7 linked regions of the Homo sapiens genome follow. The protein of the gene in region 6 interacts with the protein of the main gene of each other region in a biochemical or structural test. Each region holds a gene or a part of one and is shown on either strand. Other genes may lie near its edges. The genes, in order: FLT4, UBASH3B, GAB1, CSF3R, ZAP70, SHC1 and PTPN12.

Region 1 (3,500 bases), on a different chromosome or scaffold from region 6:
AGGACTCAAGTCCCACTGAGGGTGACAAGGAACTCCTGATGACCTGGGCTTTTGGTGGGGCGGGGGGCAAGCAGTCCAGCTGGGGCCCCTCCAGGAGAGAGGGAGGGAGGGAGGCAGGAGGAGACCCCGGGGCGGCAGGTGGATGGGGGAGCAAACTCCCAGGGCAGTGCCACAGGGCTTCTTCCTCCCTCCACAGCCATCCCCGACGGCTTCACCATCGAATCCAAGCCATCCGAGGAGCTACTAGAGGGCCAGCCGGTGCTCCTGAGCTGCCAAGCCGACAGCTACAAGTACGAGCATCTGCGCTGGTACCGCCTCAACCTGTCCACGCTGCACGATGCGCACGGGAACCCGCTTCTGCTCGACTGCAAGAACGTGCATCTGTTCGCCACCCCTCTGGCCGCCAGCCTGGAGGAGGTGGCACCTGGGGCGCGCCACGCCACGCTCAGCCTGAGTATCCCCCGCGTCGCGCCCGAGCACGAGGGCCACTATGTGTGCGAAGTGCAAGACCGGCGCAGCCATGACAAGCACTGCCACAAGAAGTACCTGTCGGTGCAGGGTGAGGCTGGCCGCGGGGAGGGCGGGGACGCGCTCTCTTCTAGCAGTAGCTGCCTCTGCCTTTGCCCCGGCGTGGCTCGCCCCTGGGAGGTCTATTCACAGCCCTGGCCTGCAGGAGCTACCCCTCCTGACTATCCGCCGCCCCCTGCGGAGGCGCGCCGCGCTCCTGCCCGGCGCACAACCCCTAAGTCCAGCTTCCAGGGATCCTTTTCTACCTCTGCTCCCAGCCCAAAGAGGGTCCTCCTGCTAAGTGCAGCTCCACTTAGCTCCCTCTCGACCCCTGCCCCCAGCCCTGGAAGCCCCTCGGCTCACGCAGAACTTGACCGACCTCCTGGTGAACGTGAGCGACTCGCTGGAGATGCAGTGCTTGGTGGCCGGAGCGCACGCGCCCAGCATCGTGTGGTACAAAGACGAGAGGCTGCTGGAGGAAAAGTCTGGTAGGGAGGGTGGCCCTGGCGAAGGGCAGGTCCGGAGGCCCGCGAGGCCGACGATCCCAAACCCAGGTGGACCCGCACCTCCACCCCACCCCCTGCAGGAGTCGACTTGGCGGACTCCAACCAGAAGCTGAGCATCCAGCGCGTGCGCGAGGAGGATGCGGGACGCTATCTGTGCAGCGTGTGCAACGCCAAGGGCTGCGTCAACTCCTCCGCCAGCGTGGCCGTGGAAGGTCTGGCCTCAGGCTGCACCCCTCAACTCCCTTCCCGTCCCCAGTTAACGCTTTCTTGTGGCCACCTTGGGCAAGTCGTGGCCACCAGAAGGGGTGCTGCCTGCAGGTGCACGCTCTTACACACACACACACACACGCCGGCCCCTTTCTGCCCACGCAGGCTCCGAGGATAAGGGCAGCATGGAGATCGTGATCCTTGTCGGTACCGGCGTCATCGCTGTCTTCTTCTGGGTCCTCCTCCTCCTCATCTTCTGTAACATGAGGAGGGTGAGTGTCCCTCCCCGCTCCTGATGGAGTCTCTCTCAGGCCTTCCCCACCCTGGCCGCCCCTAAGATAAAGAATAAGGTGCCCGCCCTAGTTCACCTGGCAGCCTTGTTTCCTGGGAAGCCTCCCTGCCCTTCACGCTGGGCTCCAACCCCGCAGAGGTTGTCTGTCTTTTTTTCTGTCCCCTCCTTGACTGAGAACCCCGCAGGAAGTGCCATCTGTCCTGGGCAAAGTTCTGCCCAAGCCACAGTGGTATGGCCAAATCAGTGAGCTGCCCCACTCCTCCCTGTCCCCTCCCCGCAGCCGGCCCACGCAGACATCAAGACGGGCTACCTGTCCATCATCATGGACCCCGGGGAGGTGCCTCTGGAGGAGCAATGCGAATACCTGTCCTACGATGCCAGCCAGTGGGAATTCCCCCGAGAGCGGCTGCACCTGGGTGAGGCCAGCACCAGCCTGCCCAACCCACACCTCCTGCCCGACCCACCTGCTGCAGGCCGGAGTGCCTGAATCCCTCCATTTTCAAAACTTGCACCAGGAAGTTCCGCCTGGCCTGACCTGTCCCTGTGGGCGTGGGTACCTAGAACCTCAGCCAGGGTCCCCAGTTCCCAGGCTCCCTGAGGTCACCTGCTGCCACCCTGAGCAGGGTGTATCTGTCACACCTACCCGGGAGGATGCGCGGCCTCCTGTCCACCTCTCCTTGTCTTCCCGCTGTGGCTCCCCACGCTCCTCCTGCTGCCAGGCCTGTCCTCCTGGACCTCTGCACGGGGCTCCCCCGCCGCCCACCTGTCTCCACGCTCACCCCGTACAGCTCACCTGCAACTGGCCCCCTGCCCCGACAGGGAGAGTGCTCGGCTACGGCGCCTTCGGGAAGGTGGTGGAAGCCTCCGCTTTCGGCATCCACAAGGGCAGCAGCTGTGACACCGTGGCCGTGAAAATGCTGAAAGGTGTGGGGTCAGCGGGCGGAAGGGGCAGCCTAGCTGGTGAGGAGCAGCAGCTCGGGGTGGGCCGGTGGGACGGCAACTCGGGAAGGGAGACTGAGGCTGGAAGCCAGTCTCATCCGAGATTCTACAGGGAGGCTGCGGGCTTCAGAGCCGAGGGACCACCCGAACCCCCTCTGCCTCAGTGGGGCCGGCAGGATGTCCTGGGGGCCCTTAGTAACCCTCCCCCTCCCAAAAGCGCCGGGTGGCGGGGAACGGGGACCTGCCAGGGTCGGGGCCGGTGTGAGGCCCGTGTCCCCTCCAGAGGGCGCCACGGCCAGCGAGCACCGCGCGCTGATGTCGGAGCTCAAGATCCTCATTCACATCGGCAACCACCTCAACGTGGTCAACCTCCTCGGGGCGTGCACCAAGCCGCAGGGTACGGAGCGGGCGGCCCGCTGGGACGGCGAGACCCCGGGCGCGGGGCGCCGCGGGCGGGAGGGGGCGCGGGTGCAAACGCGGAGCGCGCCCGCAGCGCGCCCCGGGTTCCGAACGCACGGCCGCCGCCCGGTCCCGCCGCAGGCCCCCTCATGGTGATCGTGGAGTTCTGCAAGTACGGCAACCTCTCCAACTTCCTGCGCGCCAAGCGGGACGCCTTCAGCCCCTGCGCGGTGAGCGGGCGGCCTGCGGGGCGCCGCGGGCGGCGGGGGAATGGAGGCGCCTCTGCGGCGGACGACTGGGCGCCCTCGAGCCAGCTTCGTGCATCCGCAGGAGAAGTCTCCCGAGCAGCGCGGACGCTTCCGCGCCATGGTGGAGCTCGCCAGGCTGGATCGGAGGCGGCCGGGGAGCAGCGACAGGGTCCTCTTCGCGCGGTTCTCGAAGACCGAGGGCGGAGCGAGGCGGGCTTCTCCAGACCAAGAAGGTGAGAGCCTGGCCTCTTCCCTTTTCCTAGTGCCTGACGGGCCCGGTTATATCCCGTGATCAGGCACCCCAGCCTGGGGTCCTCAGCGGGGGCTTTCATGGGAGAGTGTGGAATGGGCTCTGCCTTAGGAAGGGAAGACACCTCGGGGACAATTTTCACACAGATGTTT
Region 2 (3,500 bases), on a different chromosome or scaffold from region 6:
GGGCATTACCGGATTGATGTGGCACACTTGTAGAAGCAGGAAATGCTTTCAGGCTTTCAATCCCAGATTAAAACCTTTAGTTAATTTCATTTCACCTAGTTTATTTCAAATAACTTTCTACATTAAAACAAAATTCCTCTGTACAAGAAACCATTTGCTTCTTATCTGTCAATTCCTTCCTTGCCCTTCCTTCTCCTCTCCCCATACATCATTTGTTTTAATAAGCATCAGCTTCAGATCAAAAAGAACCAGCTGCAACTTCAGGTTATATATATTAGCCTATACTTTTTGGATGTATATGAAATTGAGTAATATAGTTGTCTCTTTCTTTTATTATACATAGATGCCACATGATTTACAAATAATTTCTCAGTTGCAGTGCAAGTTTAGTTTTTTAAATAGGTAAGTGTGCAAGGGGAACTTAATGTGAATTCAGATCTTTTGGGCCATTTTGACAAGCAATTTGAAATAATGAAATTGAAATGAAAGCAGAGAAATACAATCTTTCTTGTTTTCCACCTGAATTATTCGGAAAATTATTTCAGATCTCTATCTCCTTTTGCTTATATAGACCATTGCCTAAGGCAGTGTCCATATTGGACTAAGAACAATGGATTGTAGCCCAGTCAGACAGATTTATCAGTTCGTCATACAACTAAGATAACCTAGAAGATGGAGTGGATAACCTATTCCAGACTCTATTTCATACATTACAGATACTGCCCAGAACACACTGCTACAGTTTCAAGGTGAGGTGTTCAAGCATTATTCTGAGCACTCAACGCCCATGAAAATTTGTGGTGAATCTGTTAAAGATTATGGATCTGATTAAACAGTGGATTCACTTCATTACAAATACCAGAAGAATGAATGGTAGAGCCATTACATTACTTGTAATGTGACTTTTCTCTTAAGACCTTTATTGGGAATATTCCCTCCCAACATTTTATATTAACACATCATCACAGGGTTATTTCCATACCCAGAAGCTGGGTCAGTGTTTGCGCAACGCTAGAAGAAACCATGATTGATTTGTTTCTCAAAATGTAAAATACATGACATATTTTTCTAAGTGACCTAAAAAAAATACAACTATGGGCCAGGTGTGGTGGCTCACACCTGTAATCCTAGCACTTTGGGAGACAGGGGCAGGAGGATCGCTTGAGCCCAGGAGTTCAAGACCAGTCTAAGCATTATAGTGAGACCCTGTCTCTAAAAACAAAACAAAACAACTATAATCCTTTTGCTCATTAACATATATAGCCAGCATCCTTTCATGTCCTCTTCTTTCTAGGGGTTATCAAGTTGTAGTTTCAAACGCAAGCATAGATGTATTTTTATATACCTTACGTTTTATGCATCTGAGTTTTGAAACATAGTCAATGTTACTGCAACATGTAAAGATCCATTTTACACTAACTAATGTCTCTTTAAAGGGCTGGCATTTCACTTTGCATACATCTTCTACAGAGTGAACTATACCATAGGAGACCATCATCTGTGGCCATCAACAGTCAGATAGTCACACAATTAAACAGACATTGATAACTGATGATTTGGTTTGATTGTCATTTATTTCTTTTAAATAAACTCCCTCTAAATGCAGGAAGTAAGTATAATGAGAAACCACAGAATGTGGCTCTCCAAATTTCCTCAGTAGCCCTACCTATGTATTTTAAATTATCATAGAAAAACAAACAAAACGACAGCACAAGTAGCAGTGCAGCCATGACTGTCATCATTTATATTAGTTCCCTGACTTACTATACATCCCTGGTATAATTGATGCATTTGTGGATGTTCCATTATGGTTGACACGTACTGTAAGTGTACAACAACCTGACCCTTGGTATGGTTTGCAAACATGTCCATATTGCACAGAATGAACTTCTTGCTGCAAATAATATATCTAACATACATCCTTTCAAAATGTAACATCCTTAACTAGTTAACATAGTCTAGAGTCTAGGGGCAAAGACAAGCAAATATTGATGATTTAGAAATGCAGTAGCACGTTAGGCTACAACATGGTTAATTCCAAGTCACTTCATATTTTGCAAGTTCTTTGCTCCTATGATTGAATACTTCAAACATGTATCTTATCTTTCCTCCTGAGTATCCAAAAGTGCTTTGGAGAGCAAAAGTGCTTTGTCTCCCCATTTCACAGAAGCAAGGAGGGGGGATAGGGCTGTAGCAAGAAGGGCCAGCTGCTCTAGAGAAAATGTGGCAGTACCAGGGTAAATGTTAGCATCCTTAAGCGGGTATCTTCAGCCAGCAACACTGGTGTATGGGGGCTAGTGACGGTAGGATTTCATGTGTAACCTAAGAACAACTCTCTTCAGGGCATGTTTTCTAATAATCTTAAAAGGATTCCTCAGCTTGGCTCTACCTAACTGGAAAATGGAGATAAAAAAAAAAAAATTCCATCCCCAAGCTGTCCTTTCAATGCTCCCCCAGCTGGTCTGGGCACACTCCTTCCTCTTGCACCCCTTAGAGCGGGCCAGCAGCTCCCTCTGGGAGAAATGAGGCCCCTTAGCTGTGCATACCCAGAGGGAACGAAACATTCTCTTCTGTAGCAGGTGCCCCGATTTAGGAAGACAATTCTCCAAAGCCTTGTGAGCTAGGCAAGAGTCCAGAGAGAACACATTTTTTTCCTCTGAATCAAGTCTTTCTCTCATTTACACAGTCTCATCTTAAGAACTTTAAGTGTGAAAGGAAATATGCTAAATTATTCTGAGCTGTCCACTTAGAGTGTGGTGTGGATTTTCCCACTGTTTTTAAACACACAGAAAGACACACTCCAAAAGGCCTTTCCTTCTTGTTCACTGGTGTGGTTTATTCTTGAAGCAAGGTCTCTCTCCAGTTGAAGCCCCCAGTTGGTCCATGGGTAAGAGGAAGGATTGGTGGATCTGTCAGCTGCCATATTCCAGTTTCTCCTAATTCTTCACAGGAACAAAATCCCAGATATGGGATCTGAAGTAAGAGTCGTAAAGAAAGGGGATATTAGGAGATAGGTTTAATGCTTTAACTTTTACCTAAATACAAAGATATTCATGTGGCCCTAGAGAATTGCAGTCAGAAATGGATAGTGGCTTTGTAGAAATGCATTCCCTTCAAAAATCGATAAATAAAATAAAATGGGTAAAACTGGTAACTTAGAAGAGTATTTACATTGCAAGAGGATTCATCAGAAGGATCCATTAAATGGTGACCTCCCCTAAAGTAATTAAGTCATTGTTCATAGATTGCTGCTTAATTGGGTGGCAGAAAAAGAGGACCAAAATACATAAGGCTACAATGCCAGGAGTTAATTCCCAATTGCAAGTCCAGGTAAAAAGGCAGCTCAAGGCCGGGCACAGTGGCTCACGCCTGTAATCCCAGTACTTTGGGAGGCCGAGGCGGGCGGGTCACTTGAGGTCAAGAGTTCGAGACCAGCCTGGCCAACATGGCAAACCTCATCTATACTAAAAATACAAAAAATTAGCTGGGCGTGGTGGCAT
Region 3 (3,500 bases), on a different chromosome or scaffold from region 6:
CGCAGGAACAGAAAACCAAATATCACATGTTCTCACTTACAAGTGAGAGCTAAACATGGACATAAAGATGGCAACAACAGACACTGGGTACTACCAGAGAGGGGAAGGAGGCAGGTGGAAAGGGTTGAAAAACTAACGATTGGGTGCTATGTTCAGTTCCTGAGTGACAGGATCATTCATACCCTAAATCTCAGCATCGCACAATATACACAGGTAACAAACCTGCACATGCACCCCCCTAAAACTAAAATAAAAATTGAAATACAAAAGAATAAAAATTTTAAAAAGTGCATGTTAATTTTTAATCACATTCAGAAACTTTAAAAGATCTCTTGAAAAAATGTTTAGAGCAAATCCATCACTGTGCCAAAAGAGTCACCCAGGGAAACTCTCAGGATTAGTCTTCTGTATGCTCCCCACACAATATTAAGGATCTAAGCTTGAAGGTACTTTAACCAAAGTGGTGTATAAAAACACCATACAAAACCTTGCACTGGCTTAACAAAAAAAAGTCAGTATAGTAACTAATGTTCAGACTGTTGCAGAAAGGCGTGAATGGACAAGGCCAAACATAACAACATAAAGACAGCATGTGGGGCTCACACAGCTGCTGCATCATGCTAGACAGAGACTAGACAGAGATGGGGGCCTTAGATAAGTTTAGCGATTTAATATACTAGATTTATGTCATGACATAAAGAGAAGCTATAACAGATAAATTTCCCAAACTTTACAAAACTCCCTTTCCATCAGAAATATAAAATTTTCAATTGAAGAGGTCAAAATATAATTTGTCCTGTATTTCCAGTGACTCATCTGCTTTCCCAATATTTAATACAGTATGCTTAAAATACGTTTCTCTTAATACACACAAAACTTGGCTCAAAACAAACACTACAGTGACAGAAATAGTATGATGAAAATATCACTATCATGAATTGAGTGACAGGCAAAGGGTCTAAGATAATTATGTTTAAGTGTTCAGAACATCTATGTATTTCTGCAGTTTCAATTACTCATAAGTATTTGAAAAGCTCATCTGTATGCAAACTACAGCAGCTGACATCTATAATTGGGGCTATAAACAAGACTAGAATGTTACTGGTTTCTTATAGATCCTTCCAAAGACAATCTCAAAAACCAGACATATAGGGCAATGAACTAGTTATATGGAGCTCTGAAACTAATCAAGCCATATTTTATAGAATTAGATTTGCTTATAATGAGTTTTATATAAGAGATACTGAATAATAGATTAAGTCATTTATCTGATGTCATGAAATTTGAAATTAAAATAGATTCATCTGATGCTATGAATACTGAGAAAAATTATAGGACCAAACGAGACATTATTTTTGTTTAAGTGTTTGTGGATAAACTTTGCTTTGAGATCTGAATTTGGATTTTAAAATGTGTTTTTCTTGAAGTTATAACTTTGTAAAGTGAGTTTATGAAGTCATAACTTTGTAAAGTGAGTTTACAAAGTCTGCCTTGTAATGTTAAATACATTCTCAAGCCTCCTCTCCTGTATCATAACTATTTAAAAAGTAGAATAGTACAGGCCGGGCACAGTGGCTCACGCCTGTAATCCCAGCACTTTGGAAGGCCGAGGCAGGTAGATCCCGAGGTCAGGAGGTCGAGACCATCCTGGCTAACACGGTGAAACCCCGTCTCTACTAAAAATACAAAAAATTAGCTGGGCGTGGTGGCAGGTGCCTGTAGTCCCAGCTACTCGGGAAGCTGAGGCAGGAGAATGGCGTGAACCCCAGAGGCGGAGCTTGCAGTGAGCCGAGATCGCGCCACTGCACTCCAGCCTGGGCAACAGAGCGAGACTCTGTCTCAAAAAAAAAAAAAAAAAAAAGTAAAATAGTACTAAAGAAAAGTAAATTTTTTTTGAATACTATGACTTCAGGAACCTCTTTACTGTTTTGCTAAGTCTATTCTTGATTCTGGCAAAAACTATATGGGTATTTCAATCTGGGTGCTCTTTTTAAGTTCATTTTGTATCTAAGCAAATATGCCAAATAAATAATGTGGCCAACGAACTCACAATTGTCTCTGAACAGTTCAGTTAAATTTTAAAAGAATGAACACAATCTCCAGAAATAAGAACCTACTTTATTCTGTTCTATTAAGTTCTTTTACGTTAAAGAACTAGTGTGATTAGTCTCTAGTGTACTAGAATAATAGTACTTTCACTAAATACATAGGGATGTATAATTATAAAATATGTAGTATACATGATACATAGTATATATTCTGATATATACATAAAATATATATCATAATAATGTGGGATACATGAGTGATATCAGACCTAGAGGATACTAAAAGCTAATCATTAATTGATCTTAGGTCTTTTCTAACTTATAAACAGTGGTGTTTCCTGATTTCATATTATGCTTACCACATGGAATCACAACTGTTGAAATATACTGGAGTTTTCAAACTGTGCTCTACAGAGCTCAAGGGGAGAAAAGAGCAGCAGAGGAGCAAGGGAGGTAGGACTTAAAAGCTTTGTAACCTCACCCAAATCTTACTCCCTCCACATTTATGCGAGACCTCAAAATATAAAACTGTTAGGTTTGGAGTTAAAAAGTAGAGATCTGCCACTAACATGCACTCGTTACTGGAAAATAAGGAAAGCACCAGTTTAACATTAAAAAAGATATTTCAATATTTCAAAGAGTTCATGACACTTATATCTCAATCCTTCAGTGATCTGTATGAACCAATTATAAAGCTATACATGTCCAAACATATTTTTGCATATTATATGCAAAGAAAATGACTAGTAGTTGTCTAAAATAGATTTAGAGACAAAGAAAAAGGAAACAAAAGGAAGCATTATCCGATAGAAAGCCTCTGATGCTCACATCCTTTCTGAGATCCACACCGCAATCACAGCCCTGCTGCCAGGGCAGACTGGGTCGTCGTGGGTGTGACACACATAGACCAATCACATCATCTCTAAGCAATCTAAAGTGAGTAAATAATAAGTAAGGCAATGAGAAGCTGATGCAGAAGCTGCAAGGGCACATAAAAAGCAGCTAGGAGGCAGAACTGAGGCCATAGAAGGGGAGCATTGGAGGCCAAAGCTCTTGGAAAGCAGAATCCATTTAAGTAGAGGATACAGAGTAAGAAAACAAAAAAGAATCAGAAAAGAAAACAGAAAAGAAGGGAAGAATGTGAAAGAGAACAAACCAGATGCAAAGATTTCCCATAAAACAGAAATGCACAGAGAGAGCAGGACACAGCAACAGTCCCCTAGAATTGCTTCAGTTCCTGATAACCTCCTTGTTGAAGGAGGTTAACCTCCTGTTGAAACGAGGAGGTTATCCTTACTTACAAACAAAACCAAATCTTTTTTCTTAAGATAGTCTGAGCCTCAGTCTCTTTTCCTCACAACTAGGACTTAATTAGAACTAATATTAATGATCTAAGCCCAGGTTAAGGAGAAATTGATGCCAACATTATGTGGTCTTAAAAAGCTACATATA
Region 4 (3,500 bases), about 120 Mb from region 6:
AAGAAAAGTGGAAGAGAGAGCTAGAAGGGTGGCAGAGTCAGGGCTATAGAAAAAGGATCAGGTTAGACTGTAGGAAGAACTTCCTGATTATGAGGATATGAAATGAGAACAACGAAGGATCAAGAAAGGCTGGAGAATCCATGTCTCTTGGGCAGTTCAGGTTGTCCCATGCCTATTGTCAGATAAGCACTGCCTCCCTTTGTCCCTGGCCCTGCCCAACTTTCCAGGCCAGCCTCACCCTTCAGCAGAAACCCCGTGGCTCTCCCATTCTGTTCCATCCTCCAGGTCTTGTTGCTATTGCTCGCGCTGGGGGGGCCCAGGCCCCACTCAATCACATAGCCCTGAGGCCATGGATTGGGGGGCTCCCAGCCTACCCAGAGGCTGTGAGGGTCTCGGGCCATGGCATGGAGTCTGGTCAGAGCTGGGCCTGGAGACAGGGTGGGAAATGGTGGAATGAAGGTGAAAAGAATGCAGGCCCTTGAGCCAGAAGCCTGGGTTCAAATCCTGGCTTTGCTATTTACAGGCTGGGTGACCTTTGGTAGGTCAACATCTTAGCCTCAGTTTCCTCATCTGTAAAGTAGAAATGATGATAAAAGTTCCTAACTCATAGGGTCTTAGTGCAGATTAAATGACTTGATGCACGAAACAAGCCTGGCATAGCGCCTGGCATGGAGTAGTTCTTGTTAGTGATAACAGCTAACACTCTATTGTTCTTGGTATGTGTCAGGCGTAGTCCTTGATATATTTTATTTTATTTTACTTTACTTTACCTTACTTTATTTTATTTTTTATGCAGAGACTTGCTCTGTCGCCCAGGCTGGAGTGCAGTGGCGCCATCTCGGCTCATTGCAACCTCCACCTCCCAGGCTCAAGTGATTCTCCTGCCGCAGCCTCCCGACTAGCTGGGATTACAGGCAACCGCCACCATGCCCGGCTAATTTTTGTATTTGTAGTAGAGATGGGGTTTCACTATGTTGGCCAGGCTGGTCTTGACCTCCTGACCTCAGATGATCCGCCCGCCTCAGCCTCCCAAAGTGCTGGGATTACAGGCGTGAGCCACCATACTGGACTCCTTGATACATTTTAATTCACTGAGTCCTCTAATAGTCATACCCAGGAAGTACTACTCTTTTCCCCATTTTACTAATGAGAAAACTGAGAGACACAGAGAGGTTAAGAAACTTGTCTAAGATCACACAGCTAGTAAGTGGGAATATTAGCTATGATTATTGTTATTGTGATTATTAGTCCCACCTTGCGAGGACCAATGTTTAGGGAAAGCAGTGGGTGGTGGCAGCTGATTTCCTGAGAATGAGCAATGAACTCATAGACCAGGTTCCAAGTGGAAAAGCCTGGGGCTTTCTCTCTTGGCTTTCTTGGCAGAATGGGCTGTGAGTGTGTGTGTGTGTGAGAGAGAGAGCTTAACCTGGTCTGGCTAATGATAATAACAACAGCAGACACATGCAGAGCAGTTACTTTGTGCCAGGCACTTGTCTTAACTCATGTACACCCCATGGCACCGCTCAGTAGGTGCTGTTATCATCCCCATCTGCTGGATGTGTAAACAGAGGCCGGGGATGGGAGGTAACTTACTCAGGTCACACTGTTAGCAAGTGATAGGACTCGTTTTTTGTTTTTTTTTGTTTTTTTGAGATGGAGTCTCCCTCTGTTGCCCAGGCTAGAGTGTAATGGCGTGATCTCAGCTTGCTGCAACCTCTGCCTCCCAGGTTCAAGCAATTCTCCTGCCTCAGCCTCCGGAGTAGCTGGGATTACAGGTGCCCGCCACTATGCCTGGCTAATTTTTGTATTTTTAGTAGAGACAGGGGTTTCACCATGTAGGCCAGGCTGGTCTTGAACTCCTGACCTCGGATGATCTGCCCACCTCGGCCTCCCAAAGTGCTGGGATTACAGGCGTGAGCCACTGCGCCCGGCCAATAGGACTAGATTTAACCCAGGCAGTCTAGCCTTTGAATTGATGCGCTTGACCTCTGTGCTCTTCTGGCTGCCAGCCCCCTTTACCTCTGCTTTCTGAGAAGACCACCGGAGTGGGACGAGAGGTCCCGGCTGAGTTATAGGCCACAAGGGCCACCTCCTGGGCTTCTGAAGGCAGGTGGAAGGTGCAGCTGAGCTCTGTGGTGTTGCAGAGGGGCAGGATGGCCCCAGCCTGGCCTGAGGGTCTCCAAGAAACCACATAACCTTGGATCCGTCCGCTGTCTTCCTCCAGGGGCACTGGCTGTGGGGCACAGGAGGAAAAAGAGAAGGGGATGTGCAGCTCATCTTGAGTCAAGGAGAGCCTCTAGGTGGGGTGGATGGATCATACAAACGGAGCCTCCCCAGGCTGGGGTCCAGGCTTCTCACCCCCCTCCCCTTTTCCCTCTGTTCCCTTGTGCTAGGTTCTAGGAAGGAGGGCAGGAAGAAACAAGTTGGTGGACACAGCAGGCTCTTAACTATTCACTGAACCACACTGTGACGTGCGTTACAGTCTGTCCAAAAGCTAACTCAGCTCCCTAGGCACATGCAAAGTGCATGCAAATCACATATAAATGCGTCCACGCCTCCCAGACCTGTTGGAGTCCTAAGCCCCGGTTTGTAGGGATCTGTTTGGACTGCGGGAGGTGTCGAGGTGGAGGGATGGCCTTCAGAGGGAGTCACCTTCCAGAACAGCTGCACTGTCCTGGGGTCCAGCTGCCTCTGCCGCCACCATGTGTCCAGTCTGACAGTGGGGGCTGTGGATGGAACAAGAAGAGGGGGTGCCAGTTGGGGAGGGGCCTGGGGCCTGGACTGGATACTGTTGGCTGCTCCCAGCCTCTCATCACCTCCTTACCCCGTTCGGTAGTTCTCAGCTCCAGGCTGGGGCTCCAGTCGCTCCAGTGGCCAGGCAGGGGCCAGCGGATGCAGCGTATCTGCAGGGTGTAGGCCGTGGCTGGGAGGAGCCCGCAGAGCTCATACTGAAGGGCCTCCAAGGGGAGGGGGCCCACCTGGTGAGGGGTGGACAGGACTCTGAGCCTTGGATCGCTGGGCCATTCTAGGGCCAGCTCGAGCCCGACTTACCCTGCCCCCTGCCCCCACCACCTCAGGCTCTCCAGGTTGCCCTCTGCCTCACCAGTGCCCAGCTGGCTTCTCCACGCTGCGGCTTGTGGCGCAGCTCACACTTCTGATTTATGTGCAGGCCTGGCTGCCATGGCTCCCAGCACAGCTGTAGGCAGCCTGCCTGGGGAGGGGCCGCTTCAGGGCTGGGGTCCATGGTCCGCAGCATGGGGGGCTCCAGTTTCACTGCAAGGAGTGGGGCTGTCAGAAGGTCTCCCTATCCCACCCTAGAGGGCTCTGCCTTAGCTCCCTCTTGTCTCCCTGTCTGTGGTTCACCATCTGTCCACGTTGCCAATGACACGTTTCTGTGGTTCGATCTCTATGTGTCTTTGTTTCTCTCTAGGTCTCTGTTTCCGCTCTTGCCCCAGGGCCTTTGCACTGGTTGTTACTTCTGCTTGAAATGTTTTCCCTCC
Region 5 (3,500 bases), on a different chromosome or scaffold from region 6:
ATTATTATTTTTGTTTCTTTCTCAGTTTATCTCACGGCTCTCCCTCCTTAGAGTGTTGCCTTCGGGAGGACGGGGTGGGACCGCGCCTGCCTCAAGCGTGCATATCCCCAGCACCGGGCCTGAAACACAATAATTCAGCACGTGGTTGGGACATGAAGAGATGGGTACAGGTGTGGGTGCTTGGGGACCAGTTGGCGTGCTTGGGCGTCCACATAATGTCTCTGGAAAGTCAGATGGGGGTTTGGGACTTCTCGATCTGTGCCCAGCAGGCTGCGGCTTCTCTCCAGGTTGACTCTGGCACAGAGCAGGCTCTGCCCCCTTGGCGAGCTCAGTCTGCGGCACTGATGCCCTCCACTTGGCGTCTCTCGCGCCGTCTTTGGGCCCAACGCACCAGGTTCAGGAAGGCCCTGACGTGCCTCCGACCCTCTGTGAACCCGCAGGTTTCGGGAGGCCCAGGGGCGATGCCAGACCCCGCGGCGCACCTGCCCTTCTTCTACGGCAGCATCTCGCGTGCCGAGGCCGAGGAGCACCTGAAGCTGGCGGGCATGGCGGACGGGCTCTTCCTGCTGCGCCAGTGCCTGCGCTCGCTGGGCGGCTATGTGCTGTCGCTCGTGCACGATGTGCGCTTCCACCACTTTCCCATCGAGCGCCAGCTCAACGGCACCTACGCCATTGCCGGCGGCAAAGCGCACTGTGGACCGGCAGAGCTCTGCGAGTTCTACTCGCGCGACCCCGACGGGCTGCCCTGCAACCTGCGCAAGCCGTGCAACCGGCCGTCGGGCCTCGAGCCGCAGCCGGGGGTCTTCGACTGCCTGCGAGACGCCATGGTGCGTGACTACGTGCGCCAGACGTGGAAGCTGGAGGTGAGAGCGCAGCCTGGGGCGCGGGGTCTGGAGGGGCGTGGCCGAAGAGGGGCAGTCGAGGGTTTTGGGGGGATAGGAGGGAGGAAAAGGTCGTCTTCCCCATTCAGTCCCCTTTGGAAGCTGGAGAGGTGGGGCACTGGTTGGGGAAGAACCTGAAAGGAGGCCTCAGAGGCAGGGGCTCCGTGGTGGCGGTCGCCTTCCGCAGGCTGAGCGATGCTATGGTGCTCTACTATGCCAGATGGGAAGGTAGAGGGACGCACTGGGCCGGGCGAAGGCGAGGCTTGGAATGGGGGCGGGGCTGAGAGGAGGGTGCGCGGGGCTAGGGTGAGCCCTTAGGGTAGGGTGGCTGTTGGGGAAGATGGGCAGTAGTCGTCCACAGCCTGAGTGACACCACCATGCACAACTACCTGAATTAGGTCTTCAAGCTGGAGATGCGCTTGGGGCCGCGCTGGAAGGTGGGGGTGGTTCCTCCCTAGCTGGATTGGGGAGGGGACCACGGAGATGGCGCGGAGGTAGTCCTCGAAAACCTGCCTAACACGCGCTAGGGACGCCTGGGTGGGGTGGGGAGTCCTCTGGGACAGGGCTCCCGGAAGGGGGTTCCTGTGGCGAGCACTTGGCCACACCTACAGACCTCCTCGCCTCTCCTTTTCTAGGGCGAGGCCCTGGAGCAGGCCATCATCAGCCAGGCCCCGCAGGTGGAGAAGCTCATTGCTACGACGGCCCACGAGCGGATGCCCTGGTACCACAGCAGCCTGACGCGTGAGGAGGCCGAGCGCAAACTTTACTCTGGGGCGCAGACCGACGGCAAGTTCCTGTATGTGGGGCCCGGGATTTGGGTGCGGTGAGGATTGGGGCTCGTTGGCAGGGATCCTGGGGACTGGGGCAGACGTGAGTGTGCAGTTGGGCCGTAAGGGTGTCCCTGTGCTCACATGTGCAAGTGGGTTGTGTGTTTCTGATGTGCAAAGGGACTTGCACATGGGGAAGTAGAGGTAGTGACTAGGAAAGCCTCCAGACTCGGTCCCTTGGCCTGGCTTGGAATCCCGCTTCCGCCACCTGCTGGCTGTGGCCCTTGGGCAAGTAGCGGACTGTGGTTGCCTGCCTCAGTTTCCCCTCCTTCAATCAACAAATATTTACTGAATACCTACTGTGTACCAGGCACTGAGCACACGGCAGTGAGCCAAAAAGACACAGTGCCTGTCCTCATGGGGCAGGTAGACAAGAAAAGGAATCAATAAAATAGAGACCCTGTCAGATGGTGGTAAGCGCCGTGTGTGCAGGTGGGGAGGCGGTTGCAATTTTAGATTAGGTGGTCAGAAGAGGCCTTCCTGAGAAGGTGACTTCTGAGGAAGGGAAAGAAGCTGAGGAGTGAGCTGTGCAGCTTTCAGGGGGAAGGGTGTTCCTGGAAAATGCAATGGCAAGTGCAAAGATCAGGAGGCAGGAGTCTATTTGGCGTGTTCCAGAAACATTGTGGAGGCCATGTGCCTGGAGCTGAGTAAGTGAGGGGGAGAATGGGAGGAGGTGAGGGCAGGGCGGGGACTTTAGCTTTTCCCCCAAGTGAGGTGGGATCCCCGGGAGAGTGTTGAAGCAGCCCCCTCTAACTGTCCTGTGGTTGACAGCAGTACCTCCCCTCAGGATCCTCTATGAGGATTACATGAATTAATACGTGTGAATCGAGAGTATGGTAACTGACATAGGAAAAATGCGGTAAATGTTAGCTTTTATATGTGGGTGAACGTGCGTGTCTGAGCCACAGCTGAGGCCATGTAGCTATTTGTGAGTTTGTTAATGTGAAAAAAATCTCTGAAAATCTCTTTTTAAAACTCTGCTGAGTGTTTGACAGCCCTGCTGGGGCTGTTGCTCTCTGGTTTGGACACGGGATCTTTTCTGTAACAGATGGTATCCAGGTGCAGCTGAGGTCACTCAGGCCTCAAGACACAGATAAATTGGTGCTGCCTCTTTCCCATGACCTCAGGAAGCCCAGTGTTTTCCCCCAAGAAATCTGTGGGGACAATTCTTGGGCCTTCCTTCTCGTGAGTGCTTCTTGGCCTGAGCCCCTGCCCAGCAGATCCCTTGGGTCATCTGCCTCCCCCAGGGCTGTTTCCTCTCCTGAGGTCAACCCACTTGGAGGAAATGACCACATCCCTTGATTTTCCTCACCCATGTGAAGTTTCTGTAGATTGCCTGCAGGCCTCTTGCAAGATGCAGCTCCCTCTCCAAGATTCTGTTGTGGGCTGATAAAATAACTCTTTTCACCCTACCATACAGATTCAGATTTAGGCTGTAAATTGGAGTGGAGTTTCCAAGGCTTCTGAGGGAGCTCTTAGATACATGTTGCACGTAATACTCAGTTGCCGGCACAACTTCTGAACAGGACAGGGCTGTTTTCTCTAAGAGGAAACCTTTGCATTTGTATCAGTTAGCTTTTGCTACATAACAAGCAGCCCTAAGATTTATTGGCTCAAAATGACAGTTTATTGCTCTTCATGATTCTGTGAGCTAACTAAGCAGTTCTGGTTTGGGTCATCTAGGCTGGGCCTGAATAGGCTGGGATGGCCACACTCACATGACTGGCCATTGGCTCAGTGTCACCTGGGTGATGGGGATGAGCTGGCCCAGTGCAGCCATCATCCAGCAAGC
Region 6 (4,300 bases):
AGACCCACCCAGTGCTCCCCACCATGCCTCACCTCTCTGATTCACAGGGTCTTTGGCAACATAGGCGACATACTCGGCTGTGTCCTGGGGAGGAAGGTCAAAAAATTTTACAGTTCTACTTTACTCCTGACCCCTAAAACCCAGTCCTTTTCAGATATCCCCACAATCCTAGCACCCCCACTTCTCTAATCAATGTCTTCCCAATCCCTAGCCCCTTGCTCTTCTCCCACCGCCTTTGCTCTGTTCCCCAACTCACCGGATCCCCGCCGGATGCAAATGAGATAGATTGCATGTGGTGGTTGGCGATGATCTGAGAATTAGGGCAGGGGATGAAGAAGGAAGGGAATGCCATGTGTCAGGCAGCCTCAGGGCCCAGAACCCTGGTGCCCCAGTCTCATTCTCTGGGTTCCTTATCCCATATCCTCATTTCCTCCTTCCCTACTGGTCTCCTGCTCTCAAGCCCTCTTCCTAGATTTTGGCCTCCTAACTAGATCTCCCCTTAGCACCCCCATCAGTGTTTCTGGTCCGTCTGCCCACCTTCACCAACCTGTTTGCAGTCTGCGGCCATGAGGTTGAGGCTGCTGGTGGAGACGGTGAGAGTGATTGGCATTCCAGCAAATTTCAGGTTACTCCTCCCCAGGATAGAGCTGAGCGGGCGGCTACAGGGCTAAGGTAGGGCCCAGGGTCTCAGAAGGTGAGGGTTCCCAGCACAGGCAAACCACACTTTTGCCTCCTGGCCCTCTCCCCACATGCCCCACACTTGCCTCCCCACTGCCCCTCCACATTTCCCAGCAGCATCCCTATCCCCAAGGACCCCAAGTACCTTTCTCCTCCTTGTCGCCCCCTTAGCACCCGGCACAGCCTCACACACCAGACTGATGGCCTCCCTGGGGAAAGAGGGGTACTCAGACCCAGCGCCTGCCTGCCTGCCTCCCACTCAACTGGGGCTGCCACAGGGCTGGGGGAGGGGAAAGCCAGGCCAGACTCCCAGGGCACTCCAGGCTCTTTGTCATGGTGGATTGAATTAAGGGCCTTTAATATTTGATGACACTGAGAGGCCACTTCCTGGCTGATTGGGTTAGGGCCTCAATGGGTATAGCCCCACCCCCTTCCAGCTACCAAATGTCCCATTCCCTTCCCAAAGGCAGCAGCAACCTTCCATCTACCCCCCTTTTCTACTCCAGCTCCACCTGCCAGCTGCTTCTGCCACCTTCCCCACAACTCCCAAGGCTGGATAGGTAAGGAGGATCCGGGCCAAAGGGGCCTCCTTTCAGTAAGAGGCGGAATCACTACCTCAGCTTTCTCTCAATCCCCTTTACTACGCAAAGATCAGCCCCCAGCAGCAGCACCCAAGTGACCCACTCCCCTCCTCTGTTTCCCATGGCCTCACTAATCCCAGGACTCCCACAATCCACTCCCTCCCCACTAACCTGGTGACCTGAGTCCGGGTGTTGAAGTCCAGGGCACGCATTGACTGGAGGACCTCCACACAACCCATGTACTAAGGGGAGGGAGAAGAGGACAGCAGGTCAGCGGCTCCCCCACCCCAGCCCCTTCACAAAGGGCCCTAGGACTTTACCCATATGGTCCCTAAGGGAAGTAAAGAGGAAGAAGTTCTGCCCACTTCCCGTGGCTACATCCCACAACCAAGGTGAAAGACAACAGGGAATGAGGAGAAAAAGAAAAGGCAGGCTAGAAGGACCTCACACACTGGGGAGAGAGTTTGGAGGGGACCGACAGGCATTGGCTGGGATGGAGTGACAACTCCAGAAAGCGGGAGGAGAATGGAGGAAAGATCAAGAAGTCATTCATTCCAACACTTATTAAGAGCTTCTGCCATGCTGGGCATTGTGCTAAGCATGCCAGGGTGGGGGTGGGGGAGTGAAAAGAAGGAAGGGGGCCCAGGCAAAGCTGGAAGGGAAGGGGCTACAGAATCGGGGAAGGGATGAGAAAGGTTTAGGAAATAGGACACTGAAACGGGGTTGTTGGGGAACAGCAGGAAAAAAGAGATTCCGGCCAAGCTGGAGTGAGCATTAGAACTGGAGGGGGTCTGCGGGGGAATGGAGAGGAGGATGTTCACTCACCCGAACCAAGTAGGAAACCCCGGGTCCCATGACTTTGTCGTTGGGATGCAGCCAGCCCCGCGTGGGCTTATTGACAAAGCTCCCGTGGCGGGTCCACTCCTCGCCCCCAAGCTGGCCCCCTTCCACCCGAGTCCTGCGCCCGCCGCCTCCACTCAGCTTGTTCATGTCCTGGAGGAGGGGTAGGGGGCCTGAGTCTGGCATGGCTGCCCCTACGATCCCCTCCCCATCATCAGCTGCCCTTCCTGGCTCCCCCTTAGACCCTGGGCGCCCCCCAGCCGGGTTGGCCAGCCTCAGGTTGCTCATCCGGGGGAAGAAGGAGCACAGGGTAGTGGGACTATCGTCCCCAGGCAGAGGAGGCAGGATGGGCCCCAGGGATGAAGCTGATGGGGAAGGCAGCTCCTCCGGGGGGGTGGACCCAGAAGCCCCTTCCTCCAGCGATGACAGAGACTCATTCCGGAGTGGATTGTACTTGGGCTTGGGGGGCAGGAGATCCATAGTTGAGGTGAAAGAGGGGCTGCTGCCCAGCCTGGCCCCCCTGCCAGTTTGGGCAAGGGGGCCAGGCAGGGGGTATCCCCAGGCCCTTAGCCTGGTTGGACCTCTGTGGCCCAGGAGTCACAGAAGTCCTGGGGAGGGAGAGGGACAAGTGGCTTCCGCTCCCCAGCTCAGACCCAGACAGTTTCAGGCCCCATCCCCGCCCAACGTGGAGCCTCTTCTCTGGCTGAGAAGAGAACAGGCTGGACCCAGCGCTTCTGGCTCCTCCCCAGGGGCGGGGAGCTAAGGGGAGAGACCAATCGTGAGGACAGTGCTGACTCACAGGCTCAGAGGGGCTGAGCCCCCACCCCGCCCCAACCTCGAACTGGAGCAGGGGGTAGGGCTATCCAAGCCCCTCTCCCCTGCCCTATACAAACAACTAGTAATCTGGGGAGAAGTAAAGTGGGGGTGGGAGGGAAGGATGGAAGAGTGGGACGGAAAGGAAGGAGATAGGAGGTCTGGGTCACTCAAAACCGGACACACGCAGGCCAAAGGGGGCAGGAAGCCAGGCAGGAGTACAGGGGAATGAGGGAGGAAACAGAGGCAGCTGGGGGTGGAAAAGGGAGGAGATCTCAGAGCTCAGCATTTCCCTTCCTGTCCTGGTTGGACACTCGAATTCCCCCACCCTCTCTATGCCCGAAAGCTGGCTGGCCCCAGCCCAGGCCACCCCCAACCGCTACCCCATACAGTAAGCCTGGGCCATTAGCATCCTCTGCTACAGCAGCTGTGGACTGGAGCTAGCGAAGTGGGGATGGGAAGTAAGTGGTCCCAATGGATGCAGAGCAGGGCCAAGAGGAAGAGCAAAGCTGGTGAAAAAAGGGGAATAAAGTTCAACCTGGATGATACATCAGGAAGCTACCAGGCAAGAAGGGAACAAGAGGACATGCTGGTCACGGCTTGTTCTCTACGTATGCCATCTACCACACCAAGACCGATGGCTCATAGCCAAGCACTGTCCTGTCTCCCCTTTCCACAGGGCTTGTTAACACAGCACACTGTCAAGGGTGAGAATGAGGCAATCAGGTCCCCACTCCCACTCCAAACCACCCCAATTCACATCCCTCCTCTTACAGGGCCCTAAGCCCCACCAAAGAGCACAGCATCCTTCACACCAGGGAAGGAGCCTGGCTGGAGGAGGTGGAAGAAACAGTTCTCCAAGAGAAGTAGAAACTACAGGCCAGGAAGGGACAGAGAGATCAGAAGACACATCTGCGTCAATAAGGACAGGAGAAAAATAAGTACAGGAGAAAGGGGTGTCAGGAGAAGATGGGTTGAAGCTGGACACAGGGAACAGTCCCAAACCCATTCCTGCCACCCACGGCTTCCTGCCACTGCTCTTCCGGAGAATGCCACAGGCAAAGCTGGAAAGTGACCAAAAAAAAAAAAACAAAGATACGTATTCCTACCGGGCGCGGTGGCTCACACCTGTGATACCAGCACTTTGGGAGGCTGAGGCGGGTGGATCACCTGAAGTCAGGAGTTCGAGACCAGCCTGGTCAACATGGTGAAACCCTGTCTCTACTAAAAATACAAAAATTAGCTGGGCGTGGTGGCGGGCACCTGTAATCCCAGCTCAGGAGGCTGAGGCAGGAGAATCGCTCGAACCCAGGAGGCGGAGGTTGCAGTGAGCCGAGATCGAGCCATTGCACTCCAGCCTAGGTGACAAGAGCAAAACTCCGTCTCAA
Region 7 (3,500 bases), on a different chromosome or scaffold from region 6:
GGTGGAGTCAGTCACAAAACACCACATATTGTATGATTCCATTTATATAAAATGTCCAGAATACTTAAATCTATGGAAACAGAAGGTAGATTTGTGGTTGCCTGGGGCTTATGGGAAGGCGGGGAGTGACTGCTAATGGGTACAGAAAGTGAAGAAAATGTCCTAAAATTGATTATGGTTATTGTTGCATAACTTCATCAATGTAATAAAAAACTAGTGAATCATAGACTTTAAATGAATAAATCTTATGGTAGGTACTTATATCTCAATAAAGCTATTATTAGTTTTTTTAAACCTATAAGCTACAACACTGAATAAACAAATGATTAAAATTTTTATATTTATCAAGACTGCAACATAAGATCTTCCCAGGCTAAAGAGGATATACACATAGACAAGAAATAATAAGAAAAATATTCTCTAGTTCTCTCTTTAAAAAAAAAAAAAAAAGGCAGTGGAAGGGGCACACTCTCCTTCAACCAATCTTCCTCTAGCTCCTACCATCTACTTTCAAAATGTTAAAAAAAATGGAAAGACACTAAACCCACCCTTCACCCTATAATCTAGCTTCTTCCCATACCCCAACCCAAACTGTTTTTTCTAGTCACCAAAGCACTCCTATGTGCCAAATGGAATAGGTACTTTCTCAACCTCACCTTACCGGTCCTCCCAGCATTATTTGACTCTGGTAATAACTCCTTTCTTGAAACTCTCCCTGGCTTTTCTGACATCTCTGGTTCTCCTCCCTCCTCCTTGACCACACCTTCTCAGGAACAATCACTAGTATATCCTTCTTTTGGCTGTTATTTTAAGACTGATGTTCTTCAACCTAAAGCTGGTCACTCTATAAGTTTGTTGGAATAAGCTCATTCACTCCCATGCTGTCGACTATCTCCTACATGCTTATATTATGATGCCTACATCTTTAACTCCGTCCTGTCAGAAATCTTGAGCTCTACATTTCTACTGGATGTCTCAGAGGCACCGCAGTTTTAACATGTTGAAAATTAAATTTATCCTCTTCTCCCCCTGAAACTTCCTCCTACAATGTTGTTTGGTCTCCTCTACTTGTTTCTCCTCCCTCACTCCTTACTCTACCAAATGGTATTCTCTAGCTTGGGTGACAGATACCAAGCTAGATATTTTGCGAGTCATAACACTATACTCTTTTCTTCTTTACTACCTACATCTAATGAATCATTGAGACTCCTTTCTTAATTCTTATCAGATGTGTTGTATACACTCTATTTCCCCATCTCAGTTCACTTCAGGCCCTCACATCTCACTTCTTATATTTCAACAGCTTCCAAAATGCCACCCTTCATACTGCTATCAGATTCAACTTTGTAAAACACAAATGACTGTTTACCTTTCTTAAAAGACTCAGTAGTGCTCCAGAAACCCAGACTAATGATTCTCACCTTTTCTACCAGAACCTATCTAAGTAAGTGAAGGTTCAGAGTACAACTCAAGGAGCAGGCTGGAGAAGGTGAGATGGGGGAATGACGCTGGAGTGGACCAGCATGTCTATTTTCTTAACACCTCCCTACTTTCTCCATGTCTCTAGGAGTTACAATGCAGACTGTCCAGAATTGCTATTATCGGTCTGTAGAATAAAATCTAAGTATAGCATAGATGTAAGATCCTTCACAAAAAGACCTCTACCTAACTTTCCCAGCATTACCTTTATCATTTACCATGTATTAGCTCACTGGTTCTCAAAGTATGGTCCAGGACCACCTCCCCAACCCCCAGCCATCAGAGGGAGTCTGTGTGGAGTTAAAACCTAGGTCTGTCAAACATGAATGTGCACCACCCTACTTTATACATTTATCTCTCATTTTGTAAATATTAAAAGTAGAGATAATTGAGATCAAATTCTGGATCAGCCACAAATTAGCTATTTGCTAATTTATTAGCAAAATTAGCATGTTTTCAACATGCAAATAACCATCTAGGCAACATAGTTCTGCACAGTCTGGGTACCTTAGCTGTCTCCTCTTTAACAGTATGGGGCACAACCAAGGCCAGGAATAGACACTCATAGAATAGTAATGACAGGTGGAAAATTTCTATCCTCAATAGTAATCAAGAAATTCAAGTTAAAACAAGATATCAGTTTTCAACCATCAAATAAAGATCAAGAAAATTATAATATGAACACTCATACATTATGACAGTTGTATAAACTGACAAAACTTTTTCAAGTTTATGAACATGTATTAAATGTTTATATACGTCTACCTAGTACTCCTGGGAAGCTATCTTATGCAACAGTGAAAAATGTCAGTTTCAGCAAAAATGTTAATCACAGAATTACTATATGTAACAGCAGAAAGTAGAATGACCTAAATACTCAAACATAAAGAAACAAAATTAAGATATAAGATAGTTACCAAGTAGTAGGCCGGCTACGGTGGCTCACACCTGTAACCCCAGCACTTTGAGGCTGAGGCAGGTGGATTGCTTGAGCCCAGGAGTTTGAGACCAGCCTGGGCAACATGGGGAAACCCTGTCTCTACAAAAAATACAAAAATCAGCAGGGCTTGGTGGGGTGGGCCCATAGCCCCAGCTACTCTGGAGGCTGAAGTGGGAGGATCACCTGAGCCCAGGGAGACCGACGCTGCCGTGAGCCAGGATCGCAACCATGCACTCCAGCCTGGGTGACAGAGTGAGACCCTGTCTCAAAAACAGAACAAAACAACAAAACAAAACAAAACCAAAAAATATTAACAGAGGTAGCCTTTAAATGACAGGACTGTAGGACAGCTGGATAGAGCGAAAAGAGCATCATCACCAGTCAGGCAAGTGGAGTGTTCATTTGAACTGTGGTCTAAGTGTAAGGCATTATTATTATTCTATTAATTTCCAAATTTGGAATAAACATTATTTTATGATGGAACAGTTATATCAGCTACATTATCTCTAAGGCTCAGTCATAAAATGTTAAGAATTTAAAATGCATTTTTAATCGACATCAGAATTTAAAAATAATAGAATCTATAAGCTAATCTTTTTTTTCTCTTTCCATGCCAGGAGAACATAGTTCCTCTCCAGCCTTCCAGTCAGGGGAAAAAGCAGCACCAACTACCGGCTGTCTTAATTACAGCTATTGCTTATCAAGTCAGGAAATTAAAAAAAAAAAAAGCCCTATAAAAGAATAGCCTTAGTCATCAAATCTCTAATGTAGAATCACCTAGCTATACCTAGGTATCATGGAAGAAAAAGGAAACTCATTTACTCTTGGAGAAATGAACTCTCGGTGGCTCATGCCTGTAATCCTAGCACTTTGGGAGGCTGAGGCGGGCAGATCACAAAGTCAGTCAGATGAAAGTTCAAGACCAGTCTGGCCAATATGGTGAAATCCCATCTCTACTAAAAATACAAAAATTAGCCAGGCGTGGTGGCATGCGCCTGTAATCTCAGCTACTCAGGAGGCTGAGGCAGGAGAATCGCTTGAACCTGGGAGGTGGAGGATGCAGTGAGCCGAGATTGAGCCA

What was found.
Region 1: the proteins of SHC1 (region 6) and FLT4 form a complex in vitro, tested with the Homo sapiens proteins (2 studies listed by BioGRID).
Region 2: the proteins of SHC1 (region 6) and UBASH3B interact in a test that uses a peptide from one of them, tested with the Homo sapiens proteins (one study listed by BioGRID).
Region 3: the proteins of SHC1 (region 6) and GAB1 form a complex in vitro, tested with the Homo sapiens proteins (2 studies listed by BioGRID and IntAct, with this or other methods).
Region 4: the proteins of SHC1 (region 6) and CSF3R form a complex in vitro, tested with the Homo sapiens proteins (2 studies listed by BioGRID, with this or other methods).
Region 5: of the proteins of SHC1 (region 6) and ZAP70, one has a biochemical effect on the other in vitro, tested with the Homo sapiens proteins (2 studies listed by BioGRID, with this or other methods).
Region 7: the proteins of SHC1 (region 6) and PTPN12 form a complex in vitro, tested with the Homo sapiens proteins (2 studies listed by BioGRID).

Annotation. Positions count from the first base shown.
Region 1 is NC_000005.10:180,618,601-180,622,100, reverse strand, and holds part of FLT4 (vascular endothelial growth factor receptor 3 isoform 1 precursor), read left to right. Parts: intron 1-196; coding exon 197-559; intron 560-848; coding exon 849-995; intron 996-1,093; coding exon 1,094-1,225; intron 1,226-1,385; coding exon 1,386-1,492; intron 1,493-1,792; coding exon 1,793-1,928; intron 1,929-2,331; coding exon 2,332-2,436; intron 2,437-2,734; coding exon 2,735-2,848; intron 2,849-2,991; coding exon 2,992-3,080; intron 3,081-3,180; coding exon 3,181-3,331; intron 3,332-3,500. UniProt on the Homo sapiens protein: Tyrosine-protein kinase that acts as a cell-surface receptor for VEGFC and VEGFD, and plays an essential role in adult lymphangiogenesis and in the development of the vascular network and the cardiovascular system during embryonic development.
Region 2 is NC_000011.10:122,809,222-122,812,721, reverse strand, and holds part of UBASH3B (ubiquitin-associated and SH3 domain-containing protein B), read right to left. Parts: intron 2,974-3,500; coding exon 2,836-2,973; 3' UTR 1-2,835. UniProt on the Homo sapiens protein: Interferes with CBL-mediated down-regulation and degradation of receptor-type tyrosine kinases. Promotes accumulation of activated target receptors, such as T-cell receptors and EGFR, on the cell surface.
Region 3 is NC_000004.12:143,441,376-143,444,875, reverse strand, and holds part of GAB1 (GRB2-associated-binding protein 1), read right to left. Parts: intron 1-3,500. UniProt on the Homo sapiens protein: Adapter protein that plays a role in intracellular signaling cascades triggered by activated receptor-type kinases. Plays a role in FGFR1 signaling. Probably involved in signaling by the epidermal growth factor receptor (EGFR) and the insulin receptor (INSR).
Region 4 is NC_000001.11:36,469,414-36,472,913, forward strand, and holds part of CSF3R (granulocyte colony-stimulating factor receptor isoform a precursor), read right to left. Parts: intron 3,274-3,500; coding exon 3,104-3,273; intron 2,979-3,103; coding exon 2,825-2,978; intron 2,727-2,824; coding exon 2,653-2,726; intron 2,234-2,652; coding exon 2,020-2,233; intron 428-2,019; coding exon 239-427; intron 1-238. UniProt on the Homo sapiens protein: Receptor for granulocyte colony-stimulating factor (CSF3), essential for granulocytic maturation. Plays a crucial role in the proliferation, differentiation and survival of cells along the neutrophilic lineage.
Region 5 is NC_000002.12:97,723,576-97,727,075, forward strand, and holds part of ZAP70 (tyrosine-protein kinase ZAP-70), read left to right. Parts: intron 1-440; 5' UTR 441-461; coding exon 462-863; intron 864-1,516; coding exon 1,517-1,677; intron 1,678-3,500. UniProt on the Homo sapiens protein: Tyrosine kinase that plays an essential role in regulation of the adaptive immune response. Regulates motility, adhesion and cytokine expression of mature T-cells, as well as thymocyte development.
Region 6 is NC_000001.11:154,967,948-154,972,247, forward strand, and holds the start of SHC1 (SHC-transforming protein 1), read right to left. Parts: upstream 2,801-4,300; 5' UTR 2,580-2,800; coding exon 2,085-2,579; intron 1,502-2,084; coding exon 1,431-1,501; intron 888-1,430; coding exon 824-887; intron 668-823; coding exon 548-667; intron 311-547; coding exon 257-310; intron 85-256; coding exon 33-84; intron 1-32. UniProt on the Homo sapiens protein: Signaling adapter that couples activated growth factor receptors to signaling pathways. Participates in a signaling cascade initiated by activated KIT and KITLG/SCF.
Region 7 is NC_000007.14:77,540,295-77,543,794, reverse strand, and holds part of PTPN12 (tyrosine-protein phosphatase non-receptor type 12), read right to left. Parts: intron 1-3,500. UniProt on the Homo sapiens protein: Dephosphorylates a range of proteins, and thereby regulates cellular signaling cascades. Dephosphorylates cellular tyrosine kinases, such as ERBB2 and PTK2B/PYK2, and thereby regulates signaling via ERBB2 and PTK2B/PYK2.